2 separate regions of the Homo sapiens genome follow, and region 2 is linked to region 1. Evidence: fine-mapped expression QTL. A gene starts in region 1. The other region holds a variant in brackets. All regions are shown on one strand. Distances are between the middles of the regions.

Region 1 (5,382 bases):
GAGGGCACGTGTACCTGCATCTCTGAGGGGTAAGGAGGTTTCAAGTATTTGTGGGTTCTACCTTTGTAATGTCTTCCCAACCTGTTTTTTCCCTCGGTAGCCTCCAGGCTACTACCCACACCCAAGTCTTGTTCCGAAAGCATTTTTTTTTTTTAAACGGAGTCTTGCTCTTGTTGCCCAGGCTGGAGTGCAATGGTGTGATCTCAGCTCACTACGACCTCCGCCTCCCGGGTTCAAGCGATTCTCCTGCCTCAGCCTCCCAAATAGTTGGGATTACAGGCACCCACCATCACGCCCGGCTAATTTTTTATATTTTTAGTAGAGACGGGGTTTCACCATGTTGGCCAGGCTGGTCTGGAACTCCTGACCTCATGTGATCCACCCGCCTTGGACTCCCAAAGTGCTGGGATTATAGGTGTGAGCCACCACACCCAGCCCTGAAAGAAAATCTTATTTAAGTTGTTGGCTCCAGTAACTTTTGGACATCAAGTTAAAAATTTCTTAGCTTCTCAAACAAGGTCCTTCAGAATATGGTCCCTGTTTGCTGTCTAGGCCCATCTCTTGCTACTGCATATACATTCTTTTTGCTCCAGCCACATGGAAGTTCTTCCAGTCTTCTAAAAACATCACAACTTCATCCTTAGAATGTCTGTCTCACCCTCTCTTCCCCAAGCTCATTCATTCTTCCATTTCTGCTTGTCCTTCAACACTCAGTTCAAGCACCATTTCTCAGAAGACTTTCACAAGCCCAATCTGATTTTGTCTGGGCTATCTTGGTATCCTAAAGGATACGATCCACAAAAATATCATTTACCACACCTCACTGTAATCCATTAACTTGCCTCTCTTCCCCAGCAGACTGGGTACTTTATGAAGGCAGGTCTCAGTCTATCTGGCTTGCTATCCCAATGTCTGGCACTTGATATTACTTACTGTTTTCTTTCTTTTCTTCTCTTCTCTTCTGTTTTCTCCTCTCTTTCTCTGTCTCCTTTCTTTCCTTTCTTTTGCTCTGCCACCTAAGATGGAGTGCAGTGGCACCATCCTGGCTCACTGCAACCTCGACCTCCCGTGCTCGAGCAATCCTCCCGCCTCAACCTCCTGAGTAGCTGGGACTACAGGTGCACGCCACCACCCCTGGCTAACTTTTTGTTATGTATTTACTTATTTTTTTTGGTAGAGACGGGGTTTCACCATGTTGCTCAGGCTGGTCTCGACCTTCTGGACTCAAGTGATCCGCCAGCCTCAGCCTCCCAAAGTGCTTGGATTACAGGCATGAGCTACGGCGCTTGGCCGGCACTTGGTACTTTTAATGAATAGTTATTAACCATGAAACTTTTAAAGTTTAAGCAGTAGTATGTTTAACCTGGAAGACTTTTAACATTTAAACAGCAGGCCATTTAATTGTGGCAGTTCACATGCTACACCAGTGCATGGAGCTCCTTGTGGCCAGTGCAATGTTGCTGGCCCATCTGGCAGTGGGAAAATCTGGGCATCCAGGAGTGCATCTCTAGGGAAGTATCACCAGCCCTCACACCAATCTCAAGCTGCCTGTCTTCTGCAGAACCCACTAGATCAGCGCGCTTCTGGCCTTGACCCACTTGGTGGTTACCTACAGCCACTAAGAGGTGGGCAGATAGATGTTTTTGGTAAGTGGTCTCTGGGTTAGGGAGTGCATGGGTTATGTCCGTCTAGGGGTGTGTGTGTGTGTGTGTGTGTGTGTGTGTGTGTGTGTGTGTGTGTGCATGGGTGGGGGAAGGGAGGAAGGAGGCCGAATGTGCATCCCTTCTACAAGGACGCCTTTCCAGACCTCCTTATTAGGTGGCGTTCGCCTCCTCACCCTCTCTCAGCCCCTTATCTCCTCTTACACGGATCACGACTTGATTAATGCTTGTCTCCCAGCTAGGCCGCCAGCTGCACAAGGTAAGGAACCGAAGGCATTCCGGTTCTCCCTGGCAATCCTCCTTCTCAGAAGGATGCCTGAGGCATAACAAGTGTTCCAGAAATATTTCTTCCGCAAGCGCTCTGGGCCAGTCTGGACGGACCGAGCGCCCGCTGGGCTGCGGGGGCCCCGGGACCCCGGCCGGCACTGACGCCCCGCCCACCACCGGCCGGCCCGGGCGGGGTGGGGCGCGGCTGGGCGCTCTCGCGGGGACCGTTCTCCGGCTAGCGTGGGCGATGCCCGGGCGGGGAAACGGGAGGGGACGACGCGACGCGAGGTAGCGGCCTGGCCAATGAGCGCGGGTCGGGCGGGGCTGGGGGCCGGCGGCCGGGGCGCGCGCGGGTCTGGGCGTGCCGCGGGTGACGGCGGGGCCGGGCGGGCCAATGGGCGCTGGGTGGCGGGCGGGCGGGCCTGGCGGCCGGGGGCTTTAGGACGTGAGCGGGCGGCCGGCCGGACAGACTGACGTGTGAGCTGCATCGCGGGAGGCGCATGGCGGGGATGGCGCTGGCGCGGGCCTGGAAGCAGATGTCCTGGTTCTACTACCAGTACCTGCTGGTCACGGCGCTCTACATGCTGGAGCCCTGGGAGCGGACGGTGTTCAGTATCCTGTCCCGGCCGCGCGCGCGGGGGCCGGGCTGGGGGCGCGGGCCGCGGGGCCGCATTTCCCCAGGCCCCGGGCCTGGGGTGGAGGCTGGAGCGGCGGCCCCGCCGGTCCTGTGCGCGGAAGCCGGGGGTGCAGGGGGAGGTCTGGGGGCCGAGGGCGGCGCTCGCGGGGTTAAGTGGGGGGTGGGGGAGACGAGAACTCTTGAGATCCGGGGTCACCTGTGAGTCGCTGGACCCAAGGGGGAAGCGTCTTGATTCCTGGAGGAAATCTCCGAAGGTGATGTGTAACCCTGTGTGTCGCCTGCACTTCGGCCGCAACTGCCTTTGGTTCAGTCCCCTGTTCCTGTAGGAGGCGGGGATCATGTAACAGTGGAGCACATCGCTCCCGGCTTGGACGCCTTTGACCTTTAAGTGTTCCTGATTTAGTTGGCTTTGGGTCTACCAAGAATTCTAGTCAGTTAACTAGCTTTTAAGCCAGGTTCTGAATTTGTAGGCATGACACTCCAGTAGTTTTTGAAAGCAGTTTAAGTTATTGTATCTTTTTGGTCTTCAAGTTGGGGAGTTTTAAAAGTGTATTTATTGCTTCTGTGCACCGTCCGTAGAAGTCGGCCCGAAAAGTGGTGCAATTTGTGGTTAGTTGTCGGTAGGGTTTGAAACTGTGTTTTGGTGGATAGTTAATAAATTCTTGTTAATGACTATTGAGTGGTTACTATAAGCAAAGCATTTGTGCAAAGCACGTTGTCTGTATCTTAACTCATCTAACTTTGAGAACTTCAGTTAATAACTCAGGGTTGTGAAGATAGGCTCCCTGAAAGTCTGATGTTTCTTGTCTCTGCTTGTCCATATTGACATCCTTTGATGATATTCTTGCAGATTAAATACTGATAATGAATGAGATGTAACTTTTAAAAAACTCAGGCCAATACAAAACAGGTATTTCACAAAACATGTTTAGTTTATCCACGTTCTCTCCTTTTCAGTGTGGTTTAGTTGGAGTAGCTTACTTCAGAATAACTTTGCGAATGCATTGTTGCATTCCAGTGAGTGACTGAGGTAATTTCATTCTAAGCCTTATCAAGTGTGTTTATTTGTTTTGAGATAGCTTAAGGTTGTACTCAAAGCTGAGTCTTTTGTTTAAGCACTTTTGAGGAATTTGAGATGCTTTCAAAGCAGTTTATTTATTTATTACTGTTGGCATTTCTTTCCAAACCTGGAATTTAAGAACCAGAATGCATATTTTGGATTTAGACTCTGAATATAGTTTGCTTTGATTTCCTGCACCATTTATTTGTAGCTGCAGTTTAGTCTCACTCTTTAGGGCTCGCAAGGTCATGCCTTGTAAAATATATACTTGAATGCATATTTAATAGAAGTCTCTCAGTAGAAGCAAGTATATCTTGACTGACATAACACATCCTAAAATTAATTTAAACAATGCTGGGTTAAAATGAAACTCTTTAAATCAGAGGTTGAATGTAGAGTGCACTATTAGAATCTAGTATAGATTTGACACCTAAAATCTAATATAGATTTTACACACTAAAATGCTACAGTTATCAATGATGTTAAGATTTTTCTGTTATGTTGCAATAGTGATAGTGTCCTATAAATAACTAGGTGATGCCTTTTTTGGGGGATGGAGAAATAAATTATGAAATGAAATATAGTGCCTTAGTAGATATTTGCCTTTAATGTTTTTGAGTTACCATGGTTTAGCGACAAGTAGTTTCAATTTTTTTTTCAAATAGGTGAGAACTGCAACCAACTGACATCCAATATTATAGAACCTTATGATTTTAAACTTAAGATAAAAAAATCTTATTTCAAATTTCACGTTATTGAATTAACTCAGGTTAGAAATGCAATTGTTTGACATAAGCCAGTCTTGAATTACTATCAGCTGTTGTATTTATATTTTTCCACTTCAACTTCTAGAATCATTTAAAACTATCTGATAGTTTGGAACATCAATTTGAGATTGAATCCTCATTTTAGCTTGGTGGAAAGAACTGAATGAGAAAACTGGATTTTTTTCCCTACTTGTCAGGAGGCTTACTCTGAAGTAGTTTGAATTTCATAAATCCATTAATGATTAGTAAGCTTCACCCAGAACTAATCTGTGGCCAGCTACAGGCTTTTGGAAAGAGGCATACTTTCTACAGCTTAAACATTACATTCAACTTAATCATCAATCCTAGAAACCTAAAATTTAGAGAAATTTGCCTCTGCCTGTCTGAAAATTTGTCTCTGAGTTAGAAGTCCTGAACAGAGGAAGACTTCAGATTGATTTCTTTTCTTTGTGTGTGTGTGTGTGAGACAGTGTTTTGTTCTTGTTGCCCGGCTGGAGTGTAATGTCGCCATCTTGGCTCACTGCAACCTCCGCCTCCCAGGTTCAAGCGATTCTCCTGCCTCAGCCTCCAGAATAGCCGGGATTACAGGTGCCTGCCACCACGCCTGGCTAATTTTTGTATTTTTAGTAGAGATGGGGTTTCGCCATGTTGGCCAGGCTGGTCTCGAACTCCTGACCTCAAGTGATCTGCCCACTGCAGCCTCCCAAAATGCTGGGATTACAGGCATGAGCTACCACGCCTGGCCAGATTAATTTTCTTCTTTTTCTTTTTCTTTTTTTTTTTTTGAGACGGTGTCTCGCTCTGTTGCCGAGGCTGGAGTGTGGTGGTGCAATCTTGGCTCACTGCAACTTTGCATCCCGGATTCAAGCGATTCTCCTGCCTCAGCCTTCTGAGGTAGCTGGGATTACAGGTGCCCACCACCACGCCCAGCTAATTTTTGTATTTTTAATAGAGGCGGAGTTGGGGGTGGGGTGGGGGTGGGGTGGTTTT
Region 2 (5,382 bases), 87 kb after region 1:
TCCTCTGTAGAGAAAGAAGGGTGGAAGATAGATTGGAGGGCAGCAAGACTGGAGGCAAGAAAGACCAGTGGGAGGATGCTTGTTTAATATTTAGTTTAAGAGAGACAATGAAGACAAGAACAGGGCAGTGGGGTAGAGATAGAGAAGAAAAGTTTATAAGATACATAGGATTTGGTGATTGATTACTTATGGAGCAAGAAAGAGAGACATTTCTGGCTTGGTCAGCTTGACATTTCTCAAGATAGAGAAGACAGAGGAATAGGATTTTTGTGGCAGGGGTTGGGAAGAGGAAGGATCCCTCTGTGGTCTCAGTCTAGGAAGTCCCCCAACCTTCCTTGGTTCTCCATGACCTGAACTTTGAGAGTCCAGATCAGTTGTCCCACACGACAGCCTATACCCTGGATCATAGTTAGATTTAAACCTGCTATTTTCAGTAGTTTACCAGTAAGTGATGTTTGTACCTCCCACTGTGTCACATCAAAGAGAATCTAATGTTAGGAGCCCATCCCTTTTATAGTGAGACTTTTGACTATCATATCAGAAATTGTCCAGATTATTGGATCTTACAAATCAGACATATATGAGTATATATATATATATTTTTTTTTTGGTGGTCCTGGTCTTTTGTAAAAAATGATACATGTTCTGAGTATTTCATCTTTAAAGTATGGCTTAATGAAAGCCAACTTTGGAGCTATTTATTCAGATTGTTTTTTCTTGGTTTTATGTTCCCATGGAAACCTGTATAGCAAATAGGTTGTTCTGAGTGAGGCCTGGCCTGGTTCAGTTAAATCCAAAGGCTTCAGTCAATCTGGTTCACTGACATGAGTAATTTTCTGTCTGCCTAACCATTATCCCCTACAATTCTGATAGATAAACCAGTGTTTAAGGGGCAGACAGAGAGGAGTTGCCTACTGAGAAGACTGAGAAGCAGCAGCCAGAGAGAGAAAAGGTGAATTGGGAGCAAGGGAATGTCTATATCAGTCAGGACTCATTGGTGGCAAATAACAGAAGCCAGTGCAAACCGACTGAAGGAAAGAAAGGAGAGTCTTACACAGATACGGGAGTAGTCAGATATGCAGATATAGGCATGTAACTGGAATTTGTGGCTAGAACATTTTGGGAAATGCAATAACTTCATTTTTCTTCTCTATTCCAAAATACTTGGGAAGTCACTGGTTGGTCTTGCTTGGTGAGGCCCAGCCCTGGGTGGTCAGCCCTGGCAGGAAGCGGGAGGGCTGCAAGTACAAAAACAGGGTGGTTGGGGGCCAAACTGGGTGTTAAGGGCATTTCCTAGAAAAGAAGACATTGTTGGCCAGGCTCTAAGAGGGATTTATCACAGTGATGTCAAGACACTGAGGAAAAGAGTTTCAGGATATGGGATGGGTTGCTGTGATATACAGCAGGAGGTCAAATGAGAGGGGAAAAATACTCCTTGGGTTTGGCATTTGGACTGTCAATGGTAACTTTAGCAGGATTGCTTTTAGTGGAGTGAGGGCAGGGGATTCAGGAGAGAGTGAGAAGAAAGGGGCACAAAGATCTGTGTCCTAGAAGCTTGCTTTGAAAGGAAAGAGAGATGTCCACTAGCAGCTAAGGTTTAAGGTGGAAGAGACTTTTGCTAAAGCTGGGATTCTTCACCTGGGCTCCAGGGCTCTGGGAATCTCTCAAGCCTTTGGAAATAGCATGTAAATTTACCTGCTTCTCAAAGAGATCTGTGATCCACAAATACTAAGAACCACCGTGCTAAAGGAATGGTGGCAATAGAAAGGGAGAAGTGAAGGAAATGGGAGAGGTGATAGATACCTTGAGGAGGGGGCCAGAGTAGGAGCCAGAACACAAGAAGGATGACCTTTGTTGGGAAGAGGATGGTTGGTTTATTTCTTCTTCTGAGGGGTGTGGGGGCTGGCGGGGAGGATATGAAATTCAGGGCAGGTGCAGATGCGTTTGTAGGTAGGGTGGTAGGGAACTGTGAGATTCATTCCTGATAGATTTCATTGCTTTCTCTTTTGTTTTTGGTCCAGCTTGGCCTTGCAGCAGGCTAGAATAGCTCTTCCTACAGATAGTTGGTCAAGAGATGGTCATAATCTGTTTTTTTACTTAGGCTTATCATTGGGTTTTCTGTCTCCATGATCATTCTTGACTGATGTGCCTTGTCTCTTGAGCCTGACATCCATGGTGAGTTAGAACCTGAGCTATGCTGAGCTCTCCTTCTACCTTATCCTGGAAGACCTTCTACAGTTCCCTCACTACTCCTTGTCTGTGAAGCTGACGGTATTAACAATTAATTGCACCTTTTCCCTTTCCCTAAAGGGAAGCTGCATGCAGGGATTTCCCCCAGTTTGGGGCTTCCTGTATTGGACTCTCCTGGGGGATTGTGAGTCAGTAGGCATGATTCAAGAGAGTAGGTGCTTGTGTGGGTGGATGTTCATTGGAGTTAATTGATTCACAGTGAGTGACCTTTGTTTCTTAAATGATCTTGATCCAGAAGGTAGGAAAGTGTGGCCTCTGGATATAAAATCTGAACTTCTCTTCTCATGGAATGATCTCAGCTCAGTCATTTAGGTTTTTCATGCCTTAATTTCACCATCTGCAAAATCAAATAACATTTTCCACTTATGTTAATGGAGTACTATGTCTCTTGACATTTCTGAGAGGTATCATGAGAACAAACTGTTCAACGTATTATTGTTAAAGAAAAAGCTGGAAACCCTTATAAGCCACTCCTCTGATCTGAATGTTCTAGCTGCC[A/G]TTGTGGAAGAACCGGTTTCTGAAAGAAAAGCTTAGTGACATTCTTTAGGAAATCTTACTCATGGGACAGTACTCATATGCCAGAAAGAGTGCACTTCTTTTTAATTTAAAGACTTTTTTTTTTTTTGGAGATAGGGTCTCACTCTGTCACCCAGGCTAGAGTTCAGTGACATGATCATGGCTTACTGCAGCCTTGACCTCCTGGGCTTAAGCCATCCTTCTGCCTCAGCCTCCTCACTCACTTGTCATCATACCAGGCTAATTTTTTTTTCATTTTTAGTAGAGACAAGGACTCACTGTGTTGCCTAGGTTGGTCTTGAACTCTTGGGCTAAAGTGATCTTCCTGCCTTGGCCTCCCAAAGTGCTGGGCTTTCAGGCATGAGCCACCACACCTGCCCCATAATGGCATTTTTGACCTAAAGACATGTATCTTTCTGCTTTTGATTTTCACAGATTCTTGAAGCTGGTATCCTTTCTATACTACTAAGATTCCCTTTAAAAATAATTTAATAGTAATAAATCAGCAATCATTAAGCTACCTGGGACTTAGCTGTACTTTTAAAAAATGTTGCATTCAATTTATTCTTTTTTATTTTTTGAGATAGAATCTCACCCTGTCACCCAGGCTGGAGTGCAGTGGCACCATCATGGCTGACTGCAGCCTCAACCTCCTTGGGCTCAAGCAAACCTCCCATGTCAGCCTCCTGTGTAGCTGAGACTACAGGTGCATGCCATCATGCCCAGCTAATTTTTGTATTTTTTTGTAGAAATTGGGTATTGCTGTGTTGCCCAGGCTGGTCTTGATCTTCTGGGCTCAAGTGATCCACCCACCTGGGCCACCCAAAGTGCTGGGATTACAGGCGTGAGCCACCATGCCTGGCCAATTTATTCTTTAAAGTTTTTTTAATTTAAAAAAATTGTGGTAAAATTACATAACATGAAACTTACCATTTTAAAGTACACAGTTCAGTGCCATTAAGTGTATCACATTGTTGCACAACTATCACCACCATCCATGTCCATGATTAGCTGAACTTCTTTAGAAATAAAAGTAAATGATCTGTTTGTTGGCTTCAGTGACTTCATCTGCTGGGGATCTGTAAAAAGGTGGTAGGCTGAGTAACTCCTTATTCCCCTTTTTTTTTTTTTTTCGAGATGGAGTCTCCCTCTGCCACCCAGGCTGGAGTGCAGTGGCGTGATCTCAGCTCACTGCAACCTCCGCCTCCCAGGTTCAAGAGATTCTCCTGCCTTAGCCTCCCAAGTAGGTGGGATTACAGGTGTATGCCACCATACCTGACTAAGTTTTGTATTTTTAGAGGAGATGGGGTTTCGCCATGTTGGCCAGGTTGGTCTCGAACTCCTGACCGCAGGTGATCTACCTGCCTTGGCCTCCCAAAGTGCTGGGATTACAGGTATGAGCCTCTGTGCCTGGTCTCATTCCTTAGAAACCTCTTACTTTTGAGGAATGGTTCCGAAATGAAATTCAAAGATGTGAAGAACAAGATGTCCTCATTAATGACTGATGTTGTCGGGGTCCACAGTAGTTTAGGATTCCTATTCCAGCTCAACTTGCAGGTTTAGACAGCTGTCCTTTGCGGACAAGGTTAAGTGATTTTAATTTGGAGGGCAGAGGAGAGTTTCCAGCTTTCTGTAACTTCTGCAAGAGTTCCAGCTTCTGTAACTTCTAAGCTCTACAGAAGAGGGCTCAGAAGAGCTTAGTAACAATGGTGGTAGCAATATCTTAAGGCTCAAATTAGCTGGCCTCAGCATTGGGGAAGCAGGAGGAGGAAGCAAGAAGGTGGCTGTGAGGGAATGAAGTGGCACAGGATCTGTCCTCAGGGAAGAAGAAGGGTGCTGTCCCAGCCTGCTGACAGGAGGGAAGAGAGATCACACTCAAGGAGTTGAAATCAGTTCAACATCCTGTTGGTAACATCTCCTTTTTTCCCCATACAGTCTAAGAAATGCAGTTAGCTCGGGTTGGGATGGTTAAGTTTGAGTATTAGAACTCTGGTGCTCCTCAACTCTTTCCCTGTGATTCAGTCTTTCTCTGGCATCATATGAAAGAAAAATATCTTCTCCACAATGATTTGCTCAATCCCTGCTCCCGAAAGACCTGCTTGTTCTAAGTGTGGCCTCATCCATACTCACCTGATTTTATCAAAGTATGTTGATGACAGGTGTTAGAAATTTCACAATTTACAGCTGCAACAACAGAAAATACTGTACCAAAGGCCAACACAGAGAGGATCCAGGAATTCCCTTGGCTGGATTAAATGTCTTTTTTGCAAGACAGAGTTGTTTTTCCCTTTGATGTGGGTATGAAAGCTTGCTCTATGTGTTTGTGGAGGTAAGTTGCTGTGGTGTTGGTTAGTGGCTCTCCCAGGGATAAAAAAGGGTTTCCTTCTCGTTAAATTAAGGAGGCCTCTGCAAATGAGGTCTGCAGATTCTGGACTTGACAAAACCCAGCATTGCCCTGTTGTCCAGAGAGTGCCAGCATAGCCTGCCCCTGGGACACCTCTCTCCTTAGCTGGCCATTCACTGCTTCTGTGATATTGTGTCGGATGAGGCCACCCTCTTCCCCATTTGTAAGCTCCTCTCTGTAGCATGGGAAGCCTGGAGGTGGAATGGAGAACG

Alleles and levels. Positions count from the first base shown, and alleles are read on the strand shown. Sizes are in standard deviations (SD) of each study's normalised expression.
For the expression in thyroid of the gene that starts at base 2,396 in region 1, allele G in region 2 goes with a higher level than allele A (small effect, 0.31 SD a copy in GTEx).

What was found. PIP is the estimated chance that this variant, and not a neighbour inherited with it, causes the effect.
Region 2: its variant is fine-mapped to the expression of SPTSSA in thyroid (GTEx, PIP above 0.99).

The regions. Positions count from the first base shown.
Region 1 is chr14:34,459,254-34,464,635 of GRCh38, reverse strand. It overlaps SPTSSA (serine palmitoyltransferase small subunit A), which reads left to right and starts at 2,396. Exons shown (of 2, transcript NM_138288.4): 1 at 2,396-2,540. The coding sequence starts at 2,429. RefSeq lists silencers at 1,874-2,383, 2,504-2,673 and enhancers at 1,583-2,533, 3,074-3,183.
Region 2 is chr14:34,372,537-34,377,918 of GRCh38, reverse strand. No RefSeq gene overlaps it. Among named protein-coding and RNA genes, the nearest start is that of SPTSSA, 87 kb to the left of the region's middle. The variant A/G (reference allele first, on the strand shown) is at 2,749.